2 separate regions of the Homo sapiens genome follow, and region 1 is linked to region 2. The links come from fine-mapping of genetic effects on gene expression. A gene starts in region 2. The other region holds a variant in brackets. All regions are shown on one strand. Distances are from middle to middle.

What was found.
Region 1: its variant is fine-mapped to the expression of MEX3D in blood mononuclear cells (TOPMed, PIP 0.94).

What each region holds. Positions count from the first base shown.
Region 1 is chr19:1,613,562-1,618,561 of GRCh38, reverse strand. TCF3 (transcription factor 3) reads left to right here. Exons shown (of 19, transcript NM_003200.5): 17 at 2,741-2,876; 18 at 3,042-3,277. It also overlaps the pseudogene RNU6-1223P. Among named protein-coding and RNA genes, the nearest start is that of UQCR11, 11 kb to the right of the region's middle. The variant G/A (reference allele first, on the strand shown) is at 2,709.
Region 2 is chr19:1,565,417-1,570,917 of GRCh38, reverse strand. It overlaps MEX3D (mex-3 RNA binding family member D), which reads left to right and starts at 2,593. Exons shown (of 2, transcript NM_203304.4): 1 at 2,593-3,454. The coding sequence starts at 2,860. It also overlaps the pseudogene RN7SL477P. RefSeq lists silencers at 2,314-2,363, 2,404-2,593.

The DNA of each region.
Region 1 (5,000 bases), 48 kb before region 2:
GGAGACCCGTGGGGTTGGAGCAGAGTGAGGAGAGGGAGAGAGGGAAGGGGGGAGGGCGGGGCAGGGCAGGTCATGCGGGGCCTTGTGGGCTGCGGGGAGGACTTGGGATTTGGCCATGAGAAAGGTGGCAGCCGTGGAGGGCTGAGGAGGGATGGGACCTGACCCAGGTGCTCACAGATACCCTCTGGTGGCTGCTTGGAGGACAGACTATGAGTGGCACCGGGAGACCAAGGCAGAGGCCACAGGGCTGGTCCAGGGGCCTTGGAGGGGTGAGCAGTGGGTGGGCCCTGCATCTCCTGAAGGCGGGGCCCACAGGATTTGTGATGGACAGGACTTGAGGGTGAGAGAAGGCAGGGTGGCTCTGGGATTTCTGGCCCGAGCTGTGGGTGACACTGGGGCTGGGAACTCCGTAAGGAAGGGGACAAAGGAAAAGGTTGGGGACAAATCTGGACCTGGGCCTGGGGATTGTTGAGTGTCTCAGACACCCATGAGAGGCCCAGGAGAAGGTGGGGTCATTGTGGGCGCTGTCCTGGCCCTGTGCCTTCCACCAGCCCAGGAATCCTGCCTGCTTTCCAGGCAGACTTTCCAAGTACCTTGATTCTATCACTCCTAGGCCAGGGCATCTCACCGCAGCGGCTCTGCCCCCAGGGGACACTGGGTGATGTCTGGGGACATCTACAGTTGTCAGGGCTGAGGGGAGCTCCTGGCATGGAGTGGGTGGGGGCCAGGGATGCTGCTCAGCACCCTGCAGTGCCCAGGACGGCCCCACCCCAGAGAAGGGTCCGGACCCACAGGTCAGCAGTTTCCAGGGGCAGCCCCAAGCTTAGTCTTTCACCCATAGGCTCCCCTCTGTTTCCTTCCTGTCCTTCACTTCGTGTGCTGAGGCCTGGGCTGGTCCTGGTGGCTGGCGTTGGCCGATTGGAGCAGAGTTCACTGTGGGGAGCGGGTGCATTTCTGAGGCTCCCCCTCAGGGTACGGGGGTCTCAGGGGATGGCAGCTGGTTTGCTCCATGTGAGCCCTGACTGATTCCTGGACTCCCCAAGCCCGGGTTTTGGGGGTGGCCCAGGCCCTGCTGAATGCAGAGTGGCCGCATTCATTTGGGGCACTGTGTACCCTTAAGCCACATGTTTTGCAATTATTGTTCTTGAGCTTCATGAACACGGCGTCCCACTAGCGTGTTCTTTACACGCTGGTTTGCTGGCTTATGTTGTGTGTGGGGTACATGTGTGGTGTGAGCGGCTGGGGTCCCATTGTGAGTGTGCCGTTGGCCCTGGCCCGGGCGTGGGGCTGTAGGTCATTCCAACATCACGCTTTCCTGCCAACCTGCTGATCAAGGGTGTGATACACCTGTTGTCAATTCAGAGGAAAGGCTGATGAATTATTTTCCAAAGCAGCCAAGTTGCCCTCCCACAGGCAAGATTTTGACTGTTCAGGTCCCTCAACTTTGCTAGCTGACTGGGTATGAAAGGGTAGCGCAAAGCCACCCTAATTTGCATTTCCTTAATCTCTTGATGTGCTGAAGCGGACTTCCACGTGTTTCTAGCCATGTGGTTTCCTTGTCTGTGAGATGCCTTTTTGGATACCTTGCTTATTTTTCTACTGAGTTACTTTCTTTTTGTCCTTTCCCATTGATTGTGGGAGATCACCTCCTGGTTGGCTACATCTGTGGTGGGTGTCTTCTATTCTTTGGCAAATGCTTTTCTTTTCCTGGTATCTTTGCTGATCAGGAACTCTCAATTCTGATATAGTCCAGCTTACTGATTTTTGTTTTTTCTTTTTTACTTGTTTTGTTTTGAGACAGGGTCTCACCCTGTCACACCAGAGTGCAGGGGCATGATCACAGCTCACGGTAGCCATGACCCCCTGGCCTCAAGTGACCCTTCCACCTCAGCCTCCCAAAGTGCTGGGATCACAGGCGTGAGTCAGCCACTGTGCCCGGCCTGTGTTCTTTCAAAAGCAGCGCTTTGAGCACTTGCTTGGACAGCTCTTGGACTAAAATGAGAATGATAAAGATTAGCATAGCATCTGCACAAGGGTGACGTGGACATTCCTGAAGTGTTCCAAAGTTTTATTCTTTTTTTTTTTTTTGAGACGGAGTCTTGCTTTGTCACCCAGGCTGGAGTACAGTGGCGCAATCTTGGCTCACTGCAACCTCCGCCTCCTGGGTTCAAGTGATTCTCCTGCCTCAGCCTCCCAAGTAGCTGGGATTACAGGTACCCACCACCACAGCTGGCTAATTTTTTGTATTTTTAGTAGAGATGGGGTTTCACCATGTTAGCCAGGATGGTCTTGATCTCCTGACCTCGTGATCCACCCACCTCGGCCTCCCAAAATGCTGGCATTACAGGTGTGAGCTGGTGTGAGCCACTGTGCCCATCCGAAGTGTTCCATATTTTTAAGTTAATGATTGAAACAGTTTACTTTCACCAAAAAAGAAGAGTGTTCTTTTAGCATCTTAGTAGATTCCTGCCATTGAGTTGCTGCAGAATTTCTACACACTTTGTTCCAAAGGTGGTAAAACTGTTTCCCTTTCATCTTGTGGTCCTTAATCTGTCTGGCATTGGTAGCTACACATGGCGTGAGGTAGGGATCCAGTTCTGGTTGTTGGTTTTTTGTTTTTATTTTTGGCCAAGACCTGGTTTTTCCAGGAAAGCCCAAGTCCCTCACCACAGGAGCACAAAGAGATATGTCAGTTGGCCCTGGAGGCC[G/A]ACGCAGGCCCCTGACCCTAGGCCTGTTGCAGGGCTAGGGCGAGCAGGTGCCACGGCGGCCGCCAGCGAGATCAAGCGGGAGGAGAAGGAGGACGAGGAGAACACGTCAGCGGCTGACCACTCGGAGGAGGAGAAGAAGGAGCTGAAGGCCCCCCGGGCCCGGACCAGGTGCCAACCCACCCCTCGGCACTCCCCACCCTCACCCCATCAGGACGCACATGTGCACAGGCCACACGCACACCGCACCCACACTGGGAGGCCGTCGGCGGGCCCCACGCTCTTCCCCCAACCTCACTGTCTCCCTCTGGCCCCCTCCCGGCGCCCTCCCCATAGCCCAGACGAGGACGAGGACGACCTTCTCCCCCCAGAGCAGAAGGCCGAGCGGGAGAAGGAGCGCCGGGTGGCCAATAACGCCCGGGAGCGGCTGCGGGTCCGTGACATCAACGAGGCCTTTAAGGAGCTGGGGCGCATGTGCCAACTGCACCTCAACAGCGAGAAGCCCCAGACCAAACTGCTCATCCTGCACCAGGCTGTCTCGGTCATCCTGAACTTGGAGCAGCAAGTGCGAGGTCAGTGGGGGCGCGGGCCACCAGCGTCCCTGCAGCGCCACCCTCCCTCGTGTTCCTGCCCTCGTTCTCCTTCCCCGCCCGCCTTCCTGGAGCCAGCCCTCCCTCTGCAGCAGTTGCCTCCTTGCAGTGACTGTGCCCTTCACCCCTCTGACCGCATTGCCATGACTGTCCACTCCTGACTGCCAGCCCTTCTCCCTGCCTGCCTCAGCATCCCCTCCACAGTGGGAGGACTGGACTCTTTCTGGACCCCTAGTCCTTCAGGCCTGGGCTCTGTGGCTCAGAACTGTATCTCCCAGCTCCACGGGGCTCCCACTCGCCGTGGTCCTCCTTTCTTGGGAAGCCCAGAACCCAGCTCACAGAGGCCAGTGTCCCCCGATCCCAGAGACAGGAGCTGGTGTGCAAACCACCCTGGCCCCTTCCCGTCAGGCAGATGCCACGCAAGGCCACATGAGCCCATCCCCTGTCTCTGACTCAGTTTCCCTATCTGAAGGTGATAGGGAAACTTCCTATCACCCCCATTTCCCAGGGCCAGGGGGAGGAAGGATACAGACAGACCCTGTCCCCACCCGCAGATGTGAGCTGACTCCTTCCCCCCGCTGGCGCTGGCGGCTGCTTCCTTAACTCCTTCCTTTCCTCGCCTGCACCCCGTTAACCCTTTCTCTCCTGCAGCACTGTTGCTGGGACCGGAGCCAGAGCCCCGGCCCGGCCCACACGCTATCCCCTCAGCTCTAAGGTTTCCGAGTCTCTGCAGCCGTGTGTGGCACGCCTCGCGCCCCCCAAGCCCGCCTCTCTGCTGTCTGCCTTCCGCCCTCCCCTCCATCCCGCCCGTCCGTCCCTCTGCTTCCCGTGGCAGCCCCTCCTCACCTCGCACTTGCTGCCCGAGCACCGGGAGCGGCTGGGCTGCAACCTCAGGGCGTTTCCTCCCCCAAAGCCCCCCGTCAGGGCTTGCGGGAAGAAACCAGACCCGGGAGCACGCAGCCCCTGGTCCTGTCAGTTTGGTCTGTGCGCTTGTCCTGGGCTCCAGGGGCCGCCCCCACCACCTGGAGGGATCCCCTCAGGCCCCTAAGGCAGGGTGGGCAGGCAAGTGGGTGAGGCAGCCCCCTAGAGACTAAGACAGGGCACCAGGCATGCTGGGCACTGGGCCAGACCTTCACCCATTTCATCTTCACCACAACCTAGAGCAGTGGGTGCCCTGATGGGGACCGGCATCCATTCTACCAAGTAGGAAGCCAGGGAACAGAGCGAGGTCACCCATGCAGGGCCATGCAGCACAGAGGCCTGGGCCGGGACCCGCACCCCTGCGGCAGCAGCAACAGTGCCCGCTCGCCAGCTGCATGCTGCTCGGCTGGAGAGGGGGCTCAGCCTTGGGCCTGGCACAGAACAGGCTCTTGGAACCTCAGAGCTCCTACTGCGACCATTCACGGTGGCAGTGACAATGGGGTTCCTGGAGGCCTAGGGAGCTGGCCTTCCCAGCCAGGGGCAGGAGCTCAGGGAGGGCTCATCTTGGGGCAGCCGGAGTTCACTGTAGGGGACGGGTGCATTTCTGAGGCTCCTCCCCAGGGTGTGGGGGTCTCGGGGGATGGGAGCTGGTTTGCTCCATGTGAGCCCTGATTTGAGTCCTGGACTCCCCAGTCCCGGGTTTTTGGAGTGGCCCAGGTATTTGCCTGCTGAGCCCGTGTCTTCAAGGCCTCCTCTGTCCACAGTGAGTCTGGCCAGGCCTAGC
Region 2 (5,501 bases):
AGTTCAAGACTAGCCCGGGCAACAAAAAGGACCCTGTCTCTACAAATACAAAAAGTAGCCCGGTGTGGTGGTGCACACCTGTGGTCCCAGCTACTCAGGAGGCTGAGGCGGGAGGATTGCTTGAGCTCGGGAGTTCTGAGCTGTAGTGAGCTATGCTGATCCAGCGTCTACATTAATATGATGACCTCCCTGGACTGGGAGGACCACCAGGTTGCCTAAGGAGGGCTGAACCTACCCAAGTCAGAGACGGAGCTGGTCAAAGCTCTCATGCTGATCTGTCCTGGGGTCACACCTGTGAATAGCCACTGCACCCCAGCCTGGGCAACAGAGCAAGACTCTGTCCGAAAAAGAAAGAAAAGGAAAGGAGAGGAGAGGGGAGGGGAGCAGAGAAGGAAGGGAGAATCCTGGTTGATACGGTGAAACCCTGTCTCTACAAAAAATACAAAAAATTAGCTGGGTGTGGCGTCAGGCACCTGTAGTCCCAGCCACTCGGGAGGCTGAGACAGGAGAATGGCGTGAACCCAGAGGCGGAGCTTGCAGTGAGCCAAGACTGCACCACTGCACTCCAACCTGGGTGACAGAGCGAGACTCCGTCTAAAAAAAAAAAAAGAAAGAAAGAAGGAAGGAAGGAAGGAAGGGAGAGAAAAGAAGAAATGAAGAACGAAATAAAGGATGAAAGAAAAGGAAGGAAGCAAGGAAGGAAGGAGAAGAAAGAAAAGAAAGAAGGAAAGAAAGACAGAAAAAAGAAAAGGAAGAGAAAGAAAAAAAGGAAAGAAAGAAAAGGAAAAGAAAAAAGAGAAAGAAAGGAAAGAGAAAGAAAGAAAAAGAAAAGAAAGAAAGGAAGAAAGAAAGAAAAAAAGGAAAGAAAGAGAAAAAAAGAAAGAGAGAAAGAAAGAGAGATAGAAAAACAATTCCAAGCATGGGCGTGCACGAAAGAGAAGTCCAGGACCCCAGGAGGGGAAGTGGGGCTGGATGCAGCCTGGGGTCAGGAGAGAGATTTTGGGTGGGGAAGGGCTCCAGGCAGGGGGATCCTGACCCTGCCTGCCTGGAAGAAGTGGGCAGAGAAGCCACCAAAAGTGAAGGGCCCAGCAGTGGGTGGCTGTGGCTGAGGGACTAGAAGAGTGGCTGAGGGGGACCCAGGGTGTGTGAGGCGGGGGGAGGGGACAGAGGAGAAGCCTTGCTAGGCAAAGGGGCAGGCTGCCCCACTCCTGCCCAGAGAGCCCTGCCTTCGGTCCAAGTTTGCACAGCCAGCCAGGGACAGGTCTGGTAGAAGAGGGGGGCAGGTAGACCCAGCCAGACAGGTTTATCACAAAAAACCCCACAGGTGCAAGGAAGGCCCCGAAGGACAGCTGGAGGAAGAGCCGCTGGGAAAGCGGCTATTTTTTTTTTTTTTTTTTTTTTTTGAGAGGAGTCTTGCTCTGTCAACCAGGCTGGAGTGCAGTGGTGCAATCTCGACTCACTGCAACCACCACCTCCAGGGTTCAAGCAATTATCCTGCCTCAGCTTCCTGAGTAGCTGGGATTACAGGTGCGCGCCACCACGCCTGGCTAATTTTTGTATTTTTAGTAGAGTCGGGGGTTTCACCATGTTGGCCAGGCTGGTCTCTAACTCCTGACCTCGTGATCCACCCGCCTCGGCCTCCCAAACTGCTGGGATGACAGGCATGAGCCACCGCGCCCGGCAAGGGTGGCTTTAGAGGTGGACAACGCCCGTTGCGGGGAAAGGCACCCCAGAAGAGGGTGGGGCTCCACATGGAGGGTTCTGGCTGGTGTGAGCCTGCCCTCGCCATGGAAGCACCACTGTGGTAGAGAGGTCTCTGGCTGGGGGCACAGAGACCGGGTCTGTGGCCTTGGGTGGGGCGGAGGAGGTGGCGTGGAGGAGGTGGCCTGATCCCAAAGCCGGGAGCCAGCCAGAGGGGAGCTAGGAGAGACTAGGGGAGAGGGACCTCAGGCCCTGGGGTGTGCATGATTGTGGAGCTGTCCCTGGCACAGAGGCTGGGGGTGGGGCAGGGGCCTGACCCTAAAGCCCACCTGATAGCAAGGGGTACTTGGGGACTGGGACCCCAGGCCCTGGGGGGTGCACCGTGGGGCGGGGGTTGGACCCTGGCACAGAGGCGGTGGGCGGGCAGGAGCCTGACTTCGAAGTCCAGTGGGATCGCGAGGGGGACTTGGAGAGGACCCCACGCCTTTATGCAGGGAGGTGGGGGTCCCTGGCACAAGGAAGCGGGCGTGGAGCAAGAGACCTCGCTTGGGGGCGACCCGGATCTCTAGGGGAAATTGGGGAGCGGGACCTCGGGCCCTGGGGCGCGCGAGGCAGGGACTCTCAGGCTTGGGGAGGGAGCGCTGTCCAGGCAGGGGCTGAGCCGCACACACCTGCAGCAGCGCCCGCACGTGCGGATGCGCCCGGGTTCCCGCCCGAGCGCCGGGCGGAGGCGGGGCCTGGACCACGTGCCCGGCGCCGGCCCCGCCCCGGCCCCGCCCCGCGCGCCTGCGCCCTGGGGGCCGCCCATTGTTGGGCCGCGGCGTGACGTCGCGGGGGCGGGGCCGGGGCGGGGCCGCGGGAGGCGGCGGGAGGGAAGGAGCGTCCCGCGCCGCCGCCGCCGCCTCGGCCGCCGAGGAGCCGCCGCCGCCGTCGCCGCCGCCGCCGAGCCGCAGCCAGAGTCGCTGCCGCCGCCCGGCCCGGCCCGGCCCGGCCCCGAGCAGCCCCGCGCCGCCGCCGCCCCGCCCGCCCGGCCCCCCGTGCCCGCCCCCGCCGCTGGATGCAGGCGGCCGGCGGCCCAGCTCGCAGAGGCGGAGGGCGGCGCGGGCGGCGGCGGCGGCGCGGGCGGCAGGAGCGCGGGCCCCAGCGCTAGCTCCCGCCATGCCCAGCTCGCTCGGCCAGCCCGACGGCGGCGGGGGCGGGGGCGGCGGCGGCGGCGGCGTGGGGGCGGCGGGGGAGGACCCCGGACCCGGACCTGCGCCCCCGCCCGAGGGCGCCCAGGAGGCCGCGCCCGCGCCCCGGCCGCCGCCCGAACCCGACGACGCGGCCGCCGCGCTCCGCCTGGCGCTGGACCAGCTGTCGGCGCTCGGGCTGGGGGGCGCTGGCGACACGGACGAGGAGGGGGCGGCCGGGGACGGCGCAGCGGCGGCGGGGGGCGCGGACGGCGGGGCGGCTCCGGAGCCTGTGCCCCCCGACGGACCTGAGGCCGGCGCGCCCCCGACCCTGGCCCCCGCCGTGGCCCCCGGGTCGCTGCCGCTGCTGGACCCCAACGCGAGTCCCCCGCCGCCGCCGCCGCCCCGGCCGTCGCCCCCCGACGTGTTCGCGGGCTTCGCGCCCCACCCCGCGGCCCTGGGGCCCCCGACGCTGCTGGCCGACCAGATGAGCGTGATCGGCAGCCGCAAGAAAAGCGTCAACATGACCGAGTGCGTCCCGGTGCCCAGCTCCGAGCACGTCGCCGAGATCGTGGGTCGCCAGGGTGAGTGGCCCTCGTCGGGGGTTGCTGTCCTGGGGGTCCCCGCACCGTCCGCCCCGGGGAAGGGGGTCGCCCGAGCCCAGCCCAGCCCGCGCCGGACGCCCCGCACCGGACACGCCCCGCGTGGGCTCCGGCCTCGGCCGCTGCCTTTGCGCCTTTGTCCTGCAGCCGCCGCGGGAGAAAGTTGGGCGCAGCCCGCGCTCCTCCCCTGCGCGCTCCGGCCCCGCCGCCGCCTTTGTCTGGGCCGCCTCCAGCCCGGAAAGGCTCCGGGGAGCCGCGCCGCAGCCCAGGCCCTCGGCCGCCCGCAGGGGCACCCCAGAGAGGGGCTCGAGGGCCCGGGGCTCCGGCCGGGCGGGGGGCGCCCCACACCCAGCACAGGCGGCGGGGCGGGGCAAGCGCAGGTTTAGGGGTGGCTTAGGGGGGCCGCCTGCAGGACCGGGAGAGAAGGCTGACAGTACAAAGAGCGCACGTCTCAGTCTCCAGCCTGGGGCCCTGACTGGGGTGGGGACGGGACCGGGCAGGAGAGGGTCCCTGCTCCACTCTCTGGCCCCGAGTCAGGGATTTCGGGGCCTGGGGAAGGACCGGCTGTCAAAGCCACTTCTGGGGTGCAGCCTGCTGGGCAGGCCGGCGGGCGGCAGGCCCCGGGTGTGGGGTCCAGCGGTGGCATCGTCGGAGCTTCCCTCTGGCCGCCCCATTGTTCTCTTTGTTAGAGAGCGAGGCTGAGATTTGCAGGGTGACATCAGGCCGGCCGCTGCTCATTGGCCCCCGAGCTGCGGGGCGGGCGGGCGGGTGGTGGGCAGTGCCTGGCCCAGCTCACACCCACCACCCCGTTAGCCACCCGCCCGCCTGCCTCCCTCAACTTTCTCCTGCCTTCCCGCCACCCCTCCCCGCTCCTGGGTCCCCGCTGACCGCCAGTGATCAGCCAGGTTCTAGAACTTGGGGTGGGGCCTTGGCGGGGCTGGTGGTGGGGCCGCAGGACACTTGGGCTGGGGGTCCCTGCCTCCCCGGGGCCCTCGGGAATCCAGGCCAGAGAAAGGTGTGGGGGGCTGGGATTGCAAGGTCATCTATGGCCCTGGCCTCAGGCGGGGGACCACCAGGGCGCCCTCCCCTCCGCCCTTTCCCTCGGTCCAGGTGGGTGGGGCACCACAGCCTCCTGTCTTTTGGTCGTTCATTTGTCCAGCTCATGTGGGGACCCACGGAGGGTCAGGCATGGTGCTGGCCCCAGGAAGCATGCTCTGGAGTGGTGGGTGGGGAGGGACTGGGTTCTGTCTCAGTCCTGCTGGCTGCCCTTGGTGGGACCCCCTGGCAGGAGGGCGCCCTACCATCCTGTTACTGCCTCCCCATTGAGGCCTTCCACCCGGCCTCCATGTCCCATACCCAGGGCCTAGAACGGGACAGCTGCCCTGTGCGGAGTGTCTGGGAGCCTGTGGAGACAGGCGTCCAAGCCGAGGCCTGGGGACCAAGTGACCAAAGGCACGAGCCTGAGCCTCCAGGTGGTGGAGGCTGTGGCTGTGTTCTTTGTGAACGCGCTTGTCCTGGCACCCAAGGGCCTTTGAGCGAGGCTATGGCCACATGGGGAGCTGGCAGGAATCAGCGTCAGGCTGAGAGCTTCTAGACCTGTGGCCTCAGGGTGGGAATTCTCTAGGGGCAGGTCCATGGGAAATGGAGTCTGTGGGCACCAGGCTCAGCCCCCACCTCTGGCCTGTGCGTTCTGCACCCACTTACTGGGCTCTTGCTGGTGGCCGTCAGCAAGGCAGGCCCTGGGGTACAGTGGGGGTCGGGGGTAGAGTGGGCCCTGATTGCTTGTCCTGCAGGCCGCCGTGGCCCTGCGCAGATGACGGCCCCTCTCTGTGATGTGCGGACGTCTCACCTCCATTAGGGTAGAGGATTCTGGGGCAAGATGCTGGTTTTATTTATTTATTTATGAGACGGAGTTTCGCTCTGTCGCCCAGGCTGGAGTGCAGTGACGTGATCTGGGCTCACTGCAAACTCCGCCTTCTGGTTTCAAGCAGTTCTCCTGCCTCAGCCTCCTGAGTAGCTGGGATTACAA